Regions from separate parts of the Homo sapiens genome. Here region 1 is linked to region 2. The links come from fine-mapping of genetic effects on plasma protein levels. A gene starts in region 2. The other region holds a variant in brackets. All regions are shown on one strand. Distances are from middle to middle. Region 1 overlaps COL9A1 (collagen type IX alpha 1 chain). Region 2 holds the start of COL9A1 (collagen type IX alpha 1 chain).

Evidence for each region. A credible set is the group of variants that fine-mapping cannot tell apart. PIP is the chance, under the fine-mapping model, that this variant and not a neighbour inherited with it causes the effect. Protein levels are from antibody-based Olink assays in UK Biobank. Linkage for the fine-mapping came from a reference panel and not from the study's own genotypes, which makes the PIPs less certain.
Region 1: its variant is the best candidate, but not a certain one, in a credible set for the plasma level of the COL9A1 protein (UK Biobank, PIP 0.79).

The regions. Positions count from the first base shown.
Region 1 is chr6:70,270,651-70,280,654 of GRCh38, reverse strand. COL9A1 (collagen type IX alpha 1 chain) reads left to right here. Exons shown (of 38, transcript NM_001851.6): 11 at 5,883-5,936; 12 at 6,573-6,608; 13 at 8,567-8,590; 14 at 8,947-9,000. Among named protein-coding and RNA genes, the nearest start is that of COL9A1, 27 kb to the left of the region's middle. The variant C/T (reference allele first, on the strand shown) is at 2,382.
Region 2 is chr6:70,298,631-70,309,086 of GRCh38, reverse strand. COL9A1 (collagen type IX alpha 1 chain) reads left to right here and starts at 6,003. Exons shown (of 38, transcript NM_001851.6): 1 at 6,003-6,176; 2 at 7,013-7,086; 3 at 8,701-8,778; 4 at 8,912-9,044. The coding sequence starts at 6,163.

The DNA.
Region 1 (10,004 bases), 28 kb after region 2:
AACTGGCAGCTTTTGCAAAAGGACTTGTGAAGGTGAGGATACCTCTCTCTAGGAGGCGTTGGCATTTCCTCCTCCTAGAAAACAGCAGCGGGTACTGGCTTCCTGTCTCTAACCGTGACCTCACAGTGCACGCTGTGAACTCTCAGCCCCACTGGGGCCAGAGGGGGTACGGATGGCAATAGATTGTACTGGCTTCGGCTTACCTGCTGTGAGCCCACTGGCAGGCTCCTGGAAGCTAGCCTTCGCCCTTGCTCTTTCACCGGCACTCCCTGCATTAATTTAGAAAAAGATCCTGCAGGTAGGCAAAGGGCCAGAGCACTCCTAAATCCCAAGGAATGTGAAAAAGAAAGATGCACTTGAAGTGAGTGGGGATGTGCGGGGAATTTAGAAATTCAAAACTAGATTTTCGTCTTTCCATGGAGTTTTTCTGGCTGGCATTACTGGCAGAAATGAGCTGGCTAGGACTGTATGAAGATTGAGAACCAGCAGGCTTTCTCCAGTTTACCCACATCTCCATCAAATGCTGACTTATATGGTAAACCTAACACTAAATAATACTTCTTCAGAGTAAAATGACTTCAGGATTCTCAGCTTCTCCTCTTTCCATGCATTCTAACAATATGTAATAATGACCCACTACAGACCAGTCCTTGATTTTGTCCCTGGAATATGAAGTGAAGTAAGAAATGGCGTCTGTTCTTAGCATACCATGGTGCATCACTCAAGTTACTCTTCAAGTTACCACTTTATGTGTTTTCCAAAAACTAAAGACTTTTCTAAATGAAAGAAAGCACTCGAAAACCTATAATTATGATTTCCAAGAATTTTTGACTACAGTTTAAGACATATCCTTCATTTTGAAAGAAAAATAAATAACTGGATTTTTACTGTTATTAAGGTGTGCTTTCTTTGTCGGGATTCCCATAATGAATGTGTTTGTTTATACTGTGTCTATACTATTTAGCGTTTTTGTATGTGTATGTGTTTTTTTTTTTTTTTTTTTTTTGAGACGAAGTTTCGCTCTTGTTGCCCAGGCTGGAGTGCAATGGCACGATCTCGGCTCACTGCAACCTCTGCCTCCCGGGTTCAAGCGATTCTCCTGCCTCAGCCTCCAGCTTCCCGAGTAGCTGGGATTACAGGTGCCCTCCACCATGCCCTGCTAAGTTTTGTATTTTTAGTAGAGATGGGGTTTCACCCATAGTATTTTAGGAAATAGATCTTGGTTTACATTTCAAAGCCCCTAGTTTGAACTTTCTGTGTATGCAAATTAGCAGTACAGGAGGCACCTAAGGACTAATATTTAGATAGTAAAAACTGAATCTCAAACAAGCGTTTGTATTAATGTAATATGAACTGAAATAATATAACTTGTTGGCAATCAAACTCTTTGGAACATCTATAATTAATCGAAATTGTCATACCATAATAAAAAGAGTCTGACAAATTCAAGGCTACTGAACAAACTGGTAGCCTAATGTAGCTTGAATTTATTTCTATATTCCTTTGAAATTTCAATCAGCCTTTAGTTTTGGATGAAAAGAAAATTTCTGACTAAATTAAAAAAATTATTTTGGTAAATAAAATATTTATTTTGTATTTCAAAAATTTATTTTGGTATTTGAAGCGTAAATGGGTCATCTGAATCCTTGTCTTGCTATTAATTAAACTGCAATATAATGTCAGACAGAAAGCTGGACTTATCTGTCCCCCAATTTAATAGTGCTTTTGTAGCTTACTCAACAAATTCTTCTCTTTACCTTATACCATGGTGTCATAAAGACAATCCTTGGTTTTGCTTATAAAGTAATTTCCCCACTCTAACAGAAACTTTGGATAAACAAATGAAAGTGCTTTGAAATTTTTAGAAGTACAACATAGAAAGCAATTTCAAGTAAATTTTTCTTTGTCTATATTTGCAGACCCACAGTGCAGCATAAACCAGATTTCAAATATTAAAAGACATAAAAGAATAAGCTGCCTTAAATTATTGAACTTTGACCTCAAGGAAAAAATGATGAGCACATTTAGTCTGCTGAGACAGGAGAGGAAAGCAAAAGAGAAAGAGAGGAAAGGGGAGAAAAAAGGAAATCCCTGTATCTGCCAGTATTTTAGGCATTTTCTAGATCTTGGGGAAAAATCAACTATACTATTTGCATTTACACAGAACTTTTTCCTCAAGCACTGCCACAAACATTTCTTTTAACCAACAATAACCTGGAAAGTAGATTAGTCTAATATTACTTTCCATAAATAAGGAAACAATAATTATGAAGACAAGTGGTTTCCTCAGAGAGCTATTTAGTAGCTAAGATAACAAAATAGTCCAGATTTCTTGATTTTTAGACTCCCCAGGCAATTCTGCCTCATGCGAATACAAGTGA[C/T]GATCTTAATAGATGAGAGAGAATAGCGAGAACAGAGAGAAAAAGTGATAGTGAATTTTTAGTACCTAAGTCACCGATCAAGAAGAATGATATGGATAATAACAGCCATTTGTAATAGATATTTTATAATTACTTATAAATATTGGTTTGTTTTATATTCCCTGACTTTTGAATTTAAGCCACATGAGGCATCTGGAACTGTAAAGTTTTCTTATTCCACTCTTTGACTGATTTGACATTAAAAAAATCTTTTATTCTAAATTGAGAATGGATATCTTTGAGAATAATGAAATGCAGTAACTGGGTCAGAATTTGCTGTTTGTTTGTCCTTGGCCATAGGGGAGCTAAGTAAGTAGGAGAGCTTCAACAGTCCTTTCTTGGTAGGTGAACCTGAGTGTGCTGGTAGGACCTTAAACCTCGAATCATTTCGTCTTCTGCTCTTTGGGTCATTACAAGGCTTATTTTTTGATAATGTTAAAAAATGGTTAATTGGATGATGGTTGAAAGAATCAGAAAGGAACCCTGTTCAGTGTTCATTATCCTATGTTGAATGGATTTTTGGCAGAAAATGTAAATGAGTCATAGCAGTCATGCTTGTAGAAGTAAGCCTTGAGTCCTACCAGCTGAGCTGTCAGAATACTGGAAGGAAATCTCCATTGAGGACTGGTTTTCTCTGCCAAACAGTAACATGAAGTTCAGAACACAGTCAGCTTCAATGTTATAATGTATAGAAGTTTGTCTGTATGAATATTCATATGAAGGCACTTTTTTCTGCTCTGGTAATGTTTTCTTCTTTTATTTCTTTGAAATAAGAATTAGGAGGTCTTACTGCAAACTGGATTTTGAAAATTATGTATGTATTATGTGTGTGGTCTGTATATTTCAACTCAAATCTGCCCTTTTTTCAGGTTAAGTTGATTTTTTTTTTTTGGCTTATGGACATGTAAAATTAGATAAGACAGAACTTGGTCCTAACCTTAGGACAACTGTGCTGTTCTCAGCAATTATATTAATAGAGATATTTTTATATGTACTATTTGTTGTGACATGCTCAGAGAGACCTTTAAAAACAGTATTTTATTCTTTCTTATAACACCCATATGAGATAAGCAGAAGAGGAATTAGAATAAAGTATAAGAATTATAGCTAAACTGTGATAATTTTTACAGGCAGAGGTTAGGTGCTATGTATTTTCTGAATGTATACAACTATTATCTGTGGCAGATGCTTTATAACTAGAATTGTGAGTTATTAAGAAATTATTCTAAAAGATCAGTGTAGGTGCAAATATTCAGGCATTGAAGAAATGTGATGAGGATAAGAAATACAGTGCTGTGGTTAATACCTAGATTTGGTTTGTTTGTTTGTAGGACCTTTTCTCAATGAGGAACAGCGTCTAGAACACTGTGCAGTTAGGGACCTTGCCCATGATTCCACAGCTGCTAAGTAGTAGGATCAGGATTTGAGCTGAATATAAAGATGTTGTGGAGGAACAAGTGTAATATCCTGCCACCTGGAAGGCCTCCTTAAACTTATTGTAGGCAGTAATCACATCTTGAGTGGTTAGATGCCAGGACAACATGTTAGGACTGTAATGGACATATGACTCTTGTCCTCATGGAGCTTACGGTTTTCTGCATAGTTATTTCATAACAGGTGTTACTGTAACATCTGACACCAGAATCCATTTTCAACTTAGTTCAAAGAACTTTCCAGTGATTGACATAATTTAGCATGTCTTATGGAGGATATTTTTAATATGAAGTAACCGAAAAACAGCTTCCAGGTTATCCAACTATTTACTTGGTTCTGCTTTATAGTTACTGTCCTCCAATCTTGTCAGTTATTCCAGTCACAGGTTGAAGAGTGTTAGTTGACTGTGTGTATGAAAATTGAACAGAATTGGTCTTGGAGGGTTTATGCATTAAGTGAGAATTAGAGGATCAGTTAGTTAAATATGCCCAGAGGTTTATAAAATTTACATGCCATATGTGCATCCAGAGAGTGCTCCTGGATGTATAGTTTGTTTGTGAAATGCCAAAGCAAACATTTCATTACCATAGGTGCTTAGCAACTAATCATGTTGAGGTTTGTTCCCAAATTACGGTGTTGTAATTAGACTAGGGCTATTGAAAATCAAAGGCAGTCTGTCAAAAGTTCTTTTGTGTGTGTTTAATATTTTTCTTCTTTGGTAAATTTCCAGTAATTAACATTTCAACTCATTTTTTTCTATTTGATTCACTCTGTGACATTGTTAGGAAAATTAATTAAGGTAGAGAAATGTAAAAATGGTGGCCACTGAACTAGTTTTCTATATGAATTATGTGAAGGAATTTTATGGATGTTTATTCAGACCATGACAGACTAAATATGAATTTTGGTGATCCATTTTTAAGTAGGGCTTTCATATTTTTCAAGAGATCCCTCTGTCAATATTGTTTGGGTCTTCTTCAAAATCTTGATAATAGAAAGGGTTTATAAGATACTTATATAGGCATGTATGTATATGTACACACATATATATCATATTTATCTTTAGGAAGGTATACTTTCAAGATTACATTGTAAATGACAGCATCTGAAAGTGTCAAAGAGCAAAGAAAAAAATTAAAAATAGAAATGTATCTTTACCAAATATGGAAATTCTTGTATATATGTGATATTATCATTCTTTAATACGTGTTTTATATTGAGGATGATGATAAAGTAAGTAGTAGTAGGGAAAATGAGAATGTTTAGAATATGTATTTAATAACTGCTTTAGTATTAAATATGATAATTATAAATGTGGTTTATAATAATAGGCTTAAATTTTACATACCGAGTGGCATACATGAACATATATACTTAATCACAGCTATTTTTACTAAGAAAAATAATGTAGAAACATGCATGCTTTCAAATGTTTCTACTTTAAGAATTAATATTCTTTGATAAGCAATTGTCATTGCTAGAAGATGGCTAGGGGGCTGTTAGTGGCTATAAGGCAATAATGAGATTGTTTGTGTTTAATTCTTATTGAGGAAATATTTTATTGACTTCCAAGACATTGTTGTCATGTAGAAAGAGATTATTGTCCTGTAGAGAGATACATAGTATTTTTGTTTCATAAATGAAGTAAAGGAGGTAAATAAACCTGAGTAAATGGCAGAACCAAGACCCACCAGTCTTAGCTATTACAACATTGTAATTGCTATGTTGCATTTTTTTCCAAAGCAGAGACAAAAAACACTGAATTATTGAACCCTGTGATAAACAATGCAGTTAGCAGGAAGTTAGGAGTATGATACAACTTATCAAGAAGAAATAATCACAACAGGCAGATCTTCTGTTAATCTTTACTTTTGAGTAAGACTATAGTAAGGTATTTCTTTATAAATATTTGCATCATACTTATGTAACCATCCTGTAGACAATTAATAAATAAAATGAAAGTTTTCTACTTAGTGGTTTGCCTAAGGATGTTATGATAGTTCTAACATCATTGTCTTGCTCTATTAGGGATTAACAGGACCTGATGGATCCCCTGGCTCCATTGGGTCAAAGGGACAAAAAGTAAGTTAGCCATCTGGCATTAATTGCTAGTACGAAAATGCTGAAGTATAATTTTATTGCAGTGTTTGCAAGCCAACTAACATTAAGTTATGAAGTATCTAAAATGCACTCGTTCAACTAAAATTGTGTTTAAAAACACCATGATGTGGAATACTATGCAGCCATAAAAAGGAACAAGATCATGTCCTTTGCAGGGACGTGGATGGAGCTGGAAGCCATTATTTTCAGCAAACTAACGCAGGAACAGAAAACCAAATACTGCATGTTCTCACTTATAAGTGGGAGCTGAATAAAAAGAACACATGGACACATGAAGGGGAACAACACACACAGGGGCCTGTCAGAAAATAGGGGGTGGGAGGAGGGAGAGCATCAGGAAGAATAGCTAGTGGATGCCAGGCTTAATAGCTGGGTGATGGGATGATCTGTGCAGCAAACTACCATGGAACATGTTTACCTATGTAACAAACCTGCACATCCTGCACATGTACCCCTGAACTTAAAATAAAAGTTGGAAATTTAAAAAAAAAAAACACCATAATGGGGTGTTTTAATGCTTTCAATATTTATGCAGTTTTCACATTTACATATTCATGATATGAAAGGTCAGTACAATGAAACTATTTTTATTTTTAGGGAGAACCTGGTGTGCCTGGATCGCGTGGATTTCCAGTAAGTAAATGTAAAGCTACAGAATTGAAAATTTCCTATCTTTAGGTAAAATTCTGCCATTGTGAAATCTTTTTATTTATTTATTTATTTATTTATTTATTTATTATTATACTTTAAGTTTTAGGGTACATGTGCAGTTTTCTGCATAATATACATGAGAAATAAGTTGATGACATCTGGTATGGTAAGCATTTCTACTATGAGTGGAAAAATTTTAGAGAAGTTTGAATGTACAGTAGAAAATATATATTCTATTTGCAGGTGGTATTTCCCAGCAGACAATTCCCTCTTTACCTGCCATGATAGAAAACACTTCTTGCATAACAACAGCATATCTAAGTATTCAATGTTTAGACCATGGTGTCACACCACATTCTTCACAACTGGTTTTATCTCTAATGAAATATCGACTAATCAGATATTATCACTTGCCTGATTCCTTGGCTAGTCTTTTTCTGCATTTGCACAATATGGCAGGTGTGTGTTATTTGTATATATGAGGACCAGGTTCTTAGGCTGCTTTTCCTATCTATTTTGCTCTTTGTTCCACTTTTACTCTTGTCATTAATCTGTATTTTTTCTTCTTTTTTCCTATTTGTGCTATTTTCTTTGCCATATTTCAGCATGTCAACTTTTCCATTATAAGCCTATTTTCAGAAGTGAACAGCTTGCTGGCCTTTCTCCCATATTTTTCAACTCAACTCTTAATCTCAACAATTTATAGAGATGCCTTTTTGTTTAGTGAAATTTGTTGAACATCTAGGTTTCTGACAATGAAAGAACTTATTGATTACTTTGGTGTTTTCAAACACAACACTTACTTCCTGAATTGACCTATGTATTAAAGTGTTCAAACTGGAGTCCTTTTTCCAGGAATGCCTTTTAAAATCCCACTGATTATTAAAACATACTGTCCATGTGAAGTTCTTGCTTGTTTTTCCTGTCCAACTAATTAGAAATAATAATATCATTATCAGTGCATTGATTCCATGGGATGCTTGGTATATTCATATTTTAGAAAAGCCAGTCTGGAGTGAAAAGCTATCATGAATATCATATCACAGACAGCTGTGAATAAAAACCATTCTAACCAATGTAGGAGAGAAAAGAATAATGAGAAATCCCAAGGGGAAAAAATTGAACTTGGAAATTAAAGAGAGAGAATAGAGATCTAGGCAGCTGATATTCAGTTTTAATTTCAACGAGCATATTATTAGGTTTTGTTATATGCTAGGCCCCGTGCTAGGAGTTGGGGCTAGGAAGATGAATAAGATGTGGTTCAATCCTTGATTATGTAAAGTTTGGTGTTGCTAACGAGATATAAATGTAAAGAAGAAAATAGAATGACTATCTTAAAAATCAAATATAACATATTAAATTAGCGTCCCATTGTAGGTTACTTCAGGAGTGACACCATTTTATTTTCAATATCTACTGGATTCAGTGTCTGAAAATATAGCCCAACCTTTCAAAAGGGAGGTGTGTTTCTGACCCTTTTTTGTCCCTGCCTCTCTGTGCTGAATGTTTGGGGAACTTCTAAACATAATTTATTATAGATTGTAAAACTAGAATGCTTTTAATGTAGGTTTCCTATAAAATGCTACAAATGAATAAAATCTGTAAACTCTCCAGTTGTGATGCACCTCTTTGTGAGTTATGGTAAGTTCTCCTGAGGGCAAGCATGGAAGGCTTCTTTACTTTGATTTCCTTAAAAAAAAAAAGTTTGGAAAAATCCCAGTTAGCATAGACAGCAAAGGAATGTTAGAGGAGCTGAAATAAGCTTCTGCTTCCTGTAGAAGCAGAGCCGTGTTTGCTTTTCTTTATTCAGTGCTTTCTTTAGAATGAGCATCATTTTTAGTAATAGAGTTTATGGTTTATTTTAGCTGAGTTATGTCTACATTCATATTTATACTAAGTATAAACCTCAAGCTATAACCATTTTTATTGTACTCTTTTAGGGCCGTGGTATTCCTGGACCCCCTGTAAGTATCACTTCATCATTTATTTTTATGCAGTCTATAAAAATGTCCTATTTCTCAAATCCCCACCTTATTCTCCTACTAACGGTCTACTCAGTGGTGTTTACAGTGTTCTACCTGCAAGATCTTAGGTGGCTACTAAGGATAACACCCTTATTCTGCTAAACAAAATATTTATTAATTTAGGAAATTTCTGCTGTATCTTAAGTAATTAAAGTTTGGTCAAATGAGTTATTGTGTCATTGGAAACCAAAGCTAATACAGAAATGTAAATCTAATATTTATCATATTTGATATAATGTATGATAGATTGTAAAAATATTCATAAATGACCATTTGCTTTGATTTGTTGACTTCAGGGTCCTCCTGGGACAGCAGGACTCCCTGGAGAGCTTGGCCGTGTAGGACCTGTTGTGAGTACCACAGTGCACTTTGATAGACGTTTGCTGATTTAATAGAAGATGTTATTTGGGAAAGCAAATTACCCTAACTGTACATTTCCACTTGCAAACCAAAACATGGCAGATGAATTTCATTCCAGTTTATAATATTGATGTGAACCAGGAATAATAATAATTTTTGCAGAGTGATTTTAATTTTTTCCTAAATTTTTCAGCTAAACTTTTCTTCCCAACTTCCAGATTGTCAAGTAAGAGAGTGTCGTCCTCATTTTACAGACTCTCAGCCAGGACTGGAGTCTAGTGGCTTTTGTATTAGGCTCCCTGCATGAAATAAAAGTGAATAGCCTAAAATTATTACCATGTGTATTTATGTTAGGATCATTAAATTATAATTCAGCCAACAAAATTTAACTTTTAACATTAAAGAGCTGGGCTTCATAAAAAATGTCTCATATAAAATGCTTCATATTGATATTAAGTAAACATTTCAAAAACGTTGACATAGTGATGTTATGTGAAGGCGCGTAATTGTAAACTCACTGTGGGAAGGAGCCATGTATCATATACCTTGTTTGTTCCTCTACATGTGCTTACTGTTTGCAAATTTATTTAGTGAACAAGTGAATGAATATGAAATGATTGTAAAGTTAAAATAATTGGGAGGTGCTTCCGACTCTTTATGGCAGAACATCAAGAAGGAAAATGTGCCAAGAGTAAACATTGGATGTTAAGAGTAATTGGAACCCATTTTCATCTGAACGGTTTACTTCGATGTAGCTTTCTTTGATTTTCTGACTCATTGCAAGAGGTGCAGTGACAGACCAAGTGATAGATTGTGGGTGAACAGCACTTGCAAGAGTCAGGCACTGCAGAGATTAACCTTCCATTCCACAGTTTCAGACTGAGTGCAAACCTTCTTTTGCACTGGTTAGCAGAATGGCACTAGCAGTATAGGTTGCTCTAGGTCCTCTGTAAATCAACCAGAAAAATAAGTAGTGTTTCCAATTTGCTTTCAG
Region 2 (10,456 bases):
AATTGTTAATCAGCCTCTCAGCCAGAGATTTCTGTGATAAATTTCAGGCTCTAGCTGTGACTAATTTGCAGCATCCTCACACAACTGGTAGGTGCCATTAGGCATCTTGGGTCTTTTATTTTAAAGTAAAGATAGATGGAATAAAGCTTAAAATTAAATACCATTAGGAAGCTAGTTTTAAAAATACTTCTTCTTTAATTTAACCTATGAACTCATTAAATATGGGGGTTGTGGTATGTTTAATTAAAACTCTCAATTTACAGCTACTTCAAAAGAATGTTTTAAAAAATATATATAGTCATGTTAAAACTAAGGAACTTGCCCTACTATTCTATGAGTTTCATGGGGCATCCCAACTATTGTGCCCATACCAGGAAACAAGGGGAAAGAGATCCTTTGGCACTTCTAGTGTCTACTCTTTTCTAATCGAATGTTTTTTAAGCCATGAGTTGTAACCCATCAGTTGGTCCTGAAATGTACTCACTGATTTGGTTATCATCACTCAAAAATGAAATATAATAAAACAGAAAATAGAATATATTACATTTATTTATTTATTTTTTAACTAAGAAAACATAATTTTAATCATGGTAAACTTTGTTCAATTCCTGTGTCCACTGTGCACATTCTTCAAAACTGTTTTGGTTTTGTTATTAATTTCCTTTGAAATTTTTCTCATGCAAGACTTTCAGAATCTTGTTTACACACATGCACACACACACATAATTAGGATAGCAAAATGTTCATAGATGCTGTAAAGTTGTGTGAATTCTATTTTTAAAATAAAAAAATGTACATATTACTATAAAAATAACTTCTCCCCCTTGTGGCAAAAATTGAAAATACATTCTACTGGAGAACTGTAAGAGAGGCACTTAGGTATTATTCCTTATAAAATATTTTCACATAACTTCATGTGAATCCCCCATGTTATCCTCTAAATGGTACACAGTATTTACAAACAATATGCTTAGAGGTAGCTTCACAGTTTTCTTTACATCCAGCATTGTCCAGACTCTATTTGGATATTTTCTATAGCAAAAAGCTAAAGGTTATTTATTTTTCTAAAAACAGGGACTCACTATGTTGCCCAGAGTGGTCTTGAACTCCTAGGTTCAAGTGTTCTTCCCACCTCAGCCTCCCAAGTAGCTGGGAAGCTGCAGACTTGATAAAAGTGCTACAATAAAAGGCCAGAGTTGAAAGGAACCAGTTACAGTATAAAGATTAAAATGATAGGCAGGCAAAGAGGGATGGCCTCACTTAGAGACACCTGCCAATTTAAGATTACAGGGGCATCAGGAAGGCTTCTCACCTCTCAAAGTTTAATCTCAAAACTCTGGAAGTCCACCATTGGAGACTAATTCCTTTGTTAGTTCTGTCCAATCTTCACTTAGTTTATTAACATAAAGATAACTGGAAGGGATACGACACTTTCCTCATTTAAGATTCCCAATGGTGAAAACAAAGAAAGTCACTCATCGGAGCTATAAATGAAACTTAGCTTTCTTATTCCAGGTTCCTACTTCCTTCCTTAACCTTCCATATTTCCTCCTATTAAGTCACTAGGCACTTATAATTCTACATTTTACTGACCTTTCACTGATTATAAAGTAATTTAATACATTTATATGAGTAACTATTGCTTTCTGAAACTTTTGTTCTGGTTGTGTATCTGTATACGTAGTAATAAAGCCCATTCAATCCATCCTCCAAGCAACACCAGAACTGTCTTTCTAAAGACACATCCAAAAAAGTCATTATTGGCCTCAAACTCTTCTCTCAGTTCCTATAACAGCCAGAATAATGTCTATGCTTTCTTTTGATGTCATTCAAGATCCTTTACCCAACTCCTCCCCCGTGGTCCTCCTACTTGTGATTTCAGAAAGTGACATCACCATCTACTCAGTTGCTCAAGCTCAAAACCAGGTAGTTTTCCTGTCCCCCACCCCTTTTCCAATCTACCCACCAATCTTATCTCTTTATTCTCATCTGGTCTGAGTCAAAATTAACGACTTCAAAGCAGCCTTCCCTAACCCCTCAACCTAGACCAGCTTCTAAACCTTCTACAGACTCTATGACACATTGTCTTCTTTTATATTTTTCATAATGTTTCCACCTGAAATTATTTTGTCTATTCTTGTAAATGTGTTTAGTACCTCTCTTCCCACCAGTGTGTAAGCTGCATAGGGGCAGGGACCTGATCTTTCTCTGGTTGTCTCTCTGGTGTTAAGGTCACTCAGGGAGCATGGTAGAAGAGGCATCAATAGATATTTACCAAATGAAAGGATTCTTTGCTTCCCAAATGTCCTCTTTTACCTTTTTGTTATAGTATCTTCTGTTTTCTCTGTCTAAAACATACTGCACCCACTTATTCTCTTAGTAGCCTTAGTATCCTTCACGATTTCATCTCTTGTATTAAAAATTTCCCGATGCCCTTGGATTATGCTAATACTTGTTCTCAGTGACACTACAGCCTTCTTATTCTCTGAATTGTGGTCGCTTTCATATTGGTCCTCCATGCTGGATTGTCAGCTTCCTCAGGGCAAGGCTGTGTTTATTCACACTTTTTGCTTCCTCACCTCCCAGCACATACTTGATACATATACTACTGTATATAGTTACTCAATACATGATTGAATAAACAAAGGGAAGAAAGCAGATGATCAAGAAAGATGATTATTTGTGATGATGTTCCCCGATTTAAGCTTTAAGTAAATAATATTCTTGATTTATAAGAAGAAGGAGATTAGTGTGTGTGCATTCTGTGAAAAAGTATGTGGGGGAGGGATGAGAGGAGGTACAAAGAAAAGTATAACTGTTCTATACAAAACACTTCTATTTATAAAATGGATCATTTTAAATATTAAGCTGTCTTAGTTCATTTATAATCTGATATGATTGACCACATTTCATTTCTACATGGTTTTTCAGAACCAAACTGTTAGGTAAGGTGAGGAAATAATGCTAAGGGTGAAAAAGCTTATGCGTCTATGACCTTAGGGTGCAACTGACCCAGACCAGAATAGTGTGGCATTTGCACTGCTGTCTGTGAGATTCTAATGTCGCGTTAGGAAACAAGATTAATAGAAAATGGGAGTGGAGGGAGGAAAAAAAATTTCCTTAAATAATATTGTATATATCTTTGTTCTCTCTGGATCGACTTTCTTTTTTGTTTTTTGTTTTTTCTTTTCTTTTTTTTTTGACATAGGGCCTCACTGTCTTGCCTAGGCTGGAGTGCAGTAGTGCAATCACTGCTCACTACAGCCTCAAGCTCCTTAGGCCCAAGAGATCCTCCTGCCTCAGCCTCCTGAGTAGCTGGGACTGGAGGTGTGCATCACTGTGCCCGGCTAATTTTTGTATTTTTTGTAGAGATGGGGTTTCACCATGATGCCCAGGCTTGTCTCCAATTCCTGAGTGCAAGTCATCCGCCTGCCTTTGTCCTCCCAAAGTGCTGGGACTACAGGCATGAGCCACCCTGCCTGGCCTGGATTTACTTTCTTTCTTTTTATTAGTATTATTATTTTTGAGATGGAGTCTCACTCTGTCACCCAGGCTGGAGTGCGGTGGTGTGATCTCGGCTCACTGCAACTTCCGCCTCCTGGGTTCAAACGATTCTCCTGCCTCAGCCTCCCGAGTAGCTGGGACTACAGGCGCGTGCCACCAGGCCTGGCTAATTTTTGTATTTTAGTAGAGATGGGGTTTCACCATGTTGGCCAGGCTGGTCTCGAACTCCTGACCTCAGGTGATCTACCCACCTTGGCCTCCCAAAGTGCTGGGATTACAGGCGTGAGCCACTGTGCCCAGCCTACTTTCTTTCTTAAAATAGCTCTTGCTTGCTCCTACCATCTTAAATAAAACTGCCAAGCTAGAAAAAAGCCACACCACCTATAAGCAAACCTATTTTTCTCTCTATCCTTTCATTTTTAATTAAAAGGCACCCTCACTTGATTTCAAATTCTACTTGAAGAGGATTCATTACAGTGGGAAGGAGAGGGGCAAATGCGGAATTGAGATCTCTAAAGCAATGAAAGGATTTCCCAAACACTTCATTATAATGAAAAATCCCTCTCTCCTTTCTTACCAGAGTAAGTAATATGAGAGGATCAATCATGCAAATAAATAGCTTCAATGGACAGTCCCTTTGGAAAATGCCTTTTCCCCTGTGAATCTCTGGCTGGCTTACCTCCTGTGACTTCAGGATGTCAGGAAGGTCCCCAGCTGCAGTTTCTCCTCTGAGGTTAATAGACCGCTTCTTTCTCATGAGCCCTGACTGACTTAAACAAATAAGCTAAGATCTGGTCATTTGTAGTTCTGTCACAGAGCCAGGATGGCTGCACTAGGGAATGGGAATTTTGATAGACAGAAGGCAAATGACAGGGACTTGTAGAAAGCCCCAAACAGCATGAGGAAATGGGTGTCCCTCTGGGAAAGAGAGACAGGACTCCAACAGGTGGGCTATGAGTAGAAAATAAAAGGGCAAAAGCATGGATATTAAGTTTGCCTGATTTACATTTCATCAGTGAGCTGGGGGAGGCAGAAACTGAAAGGACTTTTTTGGAAAAGAAATAAACAAATGAAAAATAAGAAGCAACGCTATTGTTTTGTAATTAAATAAAAATTAAATCAATTAGAAAACGAAATTTAAAAATTTCAAGAAGCCAGGTGCAGTGGTGCATGACTATCATCCCAGTTACTCAGGAGGCTGAGGTGGGAGAATCCCCTGAGCCCAGAAGTTCAAGGCTGTAGTGAGCTATGATTATGCCACTGTACTCCAGCTTGGGGGACAGAGCGAGACCTGAGACCCTGTCTCTTAAAAAAAAAAAGTTCACCTAAAAATTACTTTGCTTGTACTGTGATTTTTGAGATCATTGGATCTTCTGACCTTTAGAGTCTTGGTTTTTGGAGTAACCACCCGTGTCCCTCAAGACAAGGCCAGAGGTTGGCCATGCTGAGTGGGTGGTAACGGGGGTGATGTGGGGGCTATAGGGAATTCTCTTTAGGTGCTCAGGTTCTGGAGAGACGGCATGGCATGTGTGGTAGCGATGCTGATAACATGCCTCTCTCTAGGTTTGTGCTCCTTGTAATTTGCTCTCACCTTGTTAACGGAGGATAATATGTTGCTTCTTTCCAGATACAGTGTCCTCTGCTCAACTCTGGTAGTCTCAGAGTTTAAGAATAAACAACAAGTAGGGGGCTTGATGTTACATTTTATCAGGATTTCTATCCATGAGGTAGAGAGAGGGAATGTGTATTTAGTAATAGGCATGGCACTTTGAAAAAGTTACTTCATTTTCTGCTTCCTCAACTTTCTTATTTGGAGAATAAGGGTAACTTCAGTCTTACCTTATAATGTTGTTGTGAGAATTAAATGGCATTAAGCTTTGAGCATTTTCAACAGACGGAGGTGCATAATGAAGCGTTAGCTATGAAGACGATGACAAATAATGATTGTTGGGTGTTAGACCCTCTGCCTTTGATACCTCATTTAATTCTCAAAACCATTGTTTTAATGTAAGCATTTTCAATCTGTTTTACAGTTAGGGCATCTAGTTACAGAAAGGTGAAGTAACTCTCTCAAGGACACACAGCTAGTAAGCTTCAGAATAAACAGGGATTGAAACTTAGGTTGATCGGGCACCAAGGCTCCCACGAGTTTCCACACCTCTGCCTCCCAGTGGGCACATTTTTACTGGAACCTCAGCCCTCTGAAAGCTTCCACTGTATTCCTATAGCAGTTCTGAAAGCTGCCATTGTACTCCTATAGCAGATCTAAAAGCATCTACTGTGTTCCTATAGCACCTTGCCTGGATCTTTCTGGTGAATTTCCCCACATCCTGATTTTATTTTTTTCTTTTCAGCAAACTTTCCCCTGTAAATCCCTCCTTCAGTATAACCTTGTTAGCTTTGAGGACACACCCCTAGGCCTGGGCTCAGAGCGCTGCTTCTCCCCACCCCTTTCCTTTGCTTCAGTTTAAAGTGTCACGAGATGCCTCTGGTTCTCTCCCTTTGCTTTTAGCCCTCACCGGGGGCAGGAGGGACCAAGGCTGGGCCCAGAACACATAGTCCTAGGGTAACAGTGAAGGGGTCGTGAGGGGACAGTGACTCCCTTCCAACCCCTTCTTCATAGGGACTGTTGGCAAACAAAGAAAATCAACTGGGAAAATGAAGACCTGCTGGTAAGACAATAACCCTGGAAAGAGTGGTGGGGAGATGGAGCTGGGGGTCCTCAGAACCAAGGGTCTGTATTTTTGCAGCAGTGGTAAGATGAGAGTAGGTGAGCCTCAAGGTGAGAGACAGAAAGAGAGACGGATGAGAGAGTAAGACAAGAGGGCAAGCGTGAGAAACCGAAGACAGACACAAAAAACCGAAGACAGACAGAGGAAGGGAGAGAAAGTGACGGCCACAGAAAAAGAGAGGAAGGAAATCAAAGGTGAAAGAAACCAGAGACAAAGAAATAGGTACCAAAACAGTGAGATAGGTAGATACCGAGAAGGTGAGATCAATAAAACAACAACGACAGTGGGGTCTGGAAACATGAGTTCCTTACATCTCTCAGTAGGGTTTCAAAGTAAAAATGAAGGCTGGGTGCGGTGGCTTATGCTTGTAATCCCAGCACTTTGGGAGGCCGAGGCGGGCGAATCACGAGGTCAGGAGTTCAAGACCAGACTGACCACCATGGTGAAACCCTGTCTCCACTAAAAATAGAAAAAGTAACTGGGTGTGGTGGCACGTGCCTGTAATCCCAGTTACTCAGGAGGCTGAGGCAGGAGAATCGTTTGAACCCAGGAGGTGGAGGTTGCAAAGAGCCGAGATCGCGCCATTGCACTCCAGCCTGGGTGACAGAGCGAGACTCCGTCTCAAAAAAAAAAAAAAAAAAAAAAAGAAATGAAAAAAAAACTATACTGTGATTTGATCACCTTACATTAATTAGGTTTACTAGGTTTGAAAATATGGAAGTGTTTTCCATCTGCGGGGACTCCTGTTTCAGTCATTTTTCTTCTCTCTTCTTCAGGAAAATTCCAGTTTTCTTCTTTGTGTGCAGTTTCCTGGAACCCTGGGCATCTGCAGCTGTCAAGCGTCGCCCCAGTAAGGGCCATAGTTTCTAGACTTTCAAAGATCACTTATTCCCAGAAATGATCAGGCAGGGCTGTGGCTGACTGAAGACTGAGTGAGGCATTCATAGTCCTTCACACCCTCACTCTTCAATCCAGCTTTGGGGCACAGGGATACATTAGGTTCTGGTTTTCCATGGTCAATGCTGGGTATGGAAAGTAAGTCCTGTCAGTAATCACAGTTGGTAGGAAGGCCAATCTGTGAGCTGCAGTGCCTAGTGCAGTGCCTAGTACAGATGGTGATTGGTAAATGTTGGGTGAATACATGGATGAATGAATAAATAGACTGATGGATGGATGGACCTCAACAATTTGGGGTGAGGAGAGTATAAAGAGCATGTTTGATGTACCATTATGGTTAGGCCCATGCTTTTTTATATTTATATTTTTATTTTTTTGAGATGAAGTCTCACTCTGTCACCTAGGCTGGAATGCAATGACACAATCTCGGCTCACTGCAACCTCCGCCTCCCAGGTTCAAGTGATTCTTCTGCCTCAGCCTCCGAAGTAGCTGGGACTACAGGCATGTGCCAGCATGCCTGGCTAATTTTTTATATTTTTAGTAGAGACGGGCTTTCACCATGTTGGTCAGGCTGGTCTTGAACACCTGACCTCAGGTGATCTACCTGCCTCAGCCTCCCAAAGTGCTGGGATTACAGGCGTGAGCCACAGCGCCGGGCCTATGCTTTGTAACTGAATAATACTTTTTTTGAAGTCTAGAGAGTCTCTGTTGTCAGATGAATCTTAGCAAGGCACTGAGGTTGGATATTTCCAAGAAGCCTTCTGTGGTGGTGAAAAATCTCTCTTCCCTTTGACCTTCCATTTGTGTAAGGAGAACACAATTCCATTCTATGATTTCTTATCAAATTGAGGATTTAATCCTTCTCATGATTATTTTCTTCTTCTTTTTACTCTTCCCAGTTCTAAGATGTTAGGATTAATCTAGTCGGGACTTTTATTTGATCTCTTAGAACGAATTTATGAAATCAAATCCATCCTCTATATTTTATTTAGGATTAGTGAATCTCAAGACTTCCCCAGGCCCCTATATCTGACAAAGATTCCTAAGAACTCTACTCTCCAGAAGCCCCACTGAACTGGACCAAGGTTGGCTCTGGAATCTCACTGGAATCCTAAAATTTGTGGTGTTTAAGGAACATTTTCTAGCCCAAACCACCAGGAATTTTCCAAACAGATTTCTGACCCTGTGCCATTCAGGACACCATTCAGCTTTGGTTTCAAAAGGAACAAATGCCTAACCTCTTCAAAACGAACATTTTCCCAGCCAGATTATTAGAGCAACTTTGTGCCTTGCATCCACCCCTTCCAGGATGAGTTGCAGGTGGACAGATTATAATCGTAGAGGCATGGAGGTAAAGCCAAACACTTTACCTCTAAGCAAGCTGGTATAATATTGAATTTTAAATATTTATTATTATTGATACATCCTGAAATCTTTTTTTTGTGGTCAATTGCTATTTTCTGGTTCTAAATTTTATTATTATTATTATTATTTTATTTTATTTTATTATTATTATACTTTAAGTTAGAGTGGATGAAGTAGAATGACATGCTATCTCTTTTGCAGGATTCCCTGTCAATTCCAATTCTAATGGTGGAAATGAACTCTGTCCAAAGATCAGGATTGGCCAAGATGACTTACCAGGTGAGTAGCAATGTACCCTATTGAAAATGCATGCTTTCTATAAACCTGATTTTTTTTTTTATTTGGGAAAGTTGTGGAAAGAAATAAAACCAATCTCATTTTAGACTTTTCATTTTGTATTCCCATTCTATAGGGTTTGATCTGATCTCTCAGTTCCAGGTAGATAAAGCAGCATCTAGAAGAGCTATCCAGAGAGTAGTGGGATCAGCTACATTGCAGGTGGCTTACAAGTTGGGAAATAATGTAGACTTCAGGATTCCAACTAGGTAATCTATCAAAAATATTTTAATCTAATTATCTGACTCAAATGCATTAAAAATGGATAGCTATCCAATGTTAGAGTTTTCTTATGATCAATGTTTCTTGGATTATAATTGTATTTAAAGATGAAGAAATTTATTTACCTGCCTATCTTCAGTACCTTAATACTGCATTTCATGTTTTCAGTATGTAATTTACTTTCCATTCCAGGAAAAAGCATCACTGAGACTATTATACATTGATTCAGGACATGTTCTTATTACCTTGCTTTCTGTTTTTCTATAATTTGTCTGGTTTTGACTGAAAGGACCCTCTGTGAAAAGTGCCAGAGGGTAAGCATAAATTTAACTAGGAGCCACAGAGTGGTTAGAAGACTCACAATGGTGCTGTTCAAGTGTCCTGGTGCTGAAATGGAGCCACACGTCCACTGCTTGGCTTCTGGCAGACATCAAACCAAAGCAAAACTAAAATAATTATAATAGAAACAATGATAGTAATACTAACGACATCAAATCCTCCACTTCACTGATTTCTTTCTCTGGAACTAAGCCTTTTGCTCTTTATTTAAAACTGAGGTACTTTAGTGTGTAAGTGTTGAGTCCTGTCATCATTATGAATGAATCTCAGCAATTTAGTTTTGATATCACCTAAATACCTTATTTATGATTATGATAATTATTATATGCTTTAGCACACTATAAAAAAACTAGAATTAAAATTCCTTTAGTAGATAAATGAGACAATTAGGACTTCAATAGAAATTAAGTTATAAAGATAAATAATGATTAATTAGAACAATAAGATAATATAGAAACTCAATGTATATAAAAATAAAAATTTTGAACAAATTAGAAGAATCTGATATAATAGTACCAGATTACAGCTAGAAATTCATATTTTGAACCTACTATATATTATTGTATAATACAACAATAGTACATTATATGAGCTCTTTCTATAAATTTACTAATTAACATTAATTTCATTCTCATCACAACCCTGTGATATAGGGTCATTATTAACCTTTTTTTTCTTAAATCAGGGATCCCCAAAAGTTTAATTTACTTGCATAAGGTGAGTGGGTTGGAATGTGCTGGAAGGACTGAATCCCAGGCAGAATGGTTGCAAAGGTTTTACTTCTAACCACTACTCCATACTGACTCTGGAAAACCATTCACATCTGGAAAGATTAAAACCATGATAACAGTGAATTCACTTTTTTTTCCTCATAATTTCTTTTCATGTATGGAAGTGCCAGTCGTGTTGCTAAATAAGCTTTAAAAATTCAGTTTTTTCTTTCTTAAATAATTAAGCAAAACATGAGGTCCTCAGTGCTGACCTGATTTTCTCTTCTAAGGTTTGAGGTACTGTCATTAACTCTTAAGTTCAGAGATTGATTAATTTGATGCCACGTGGC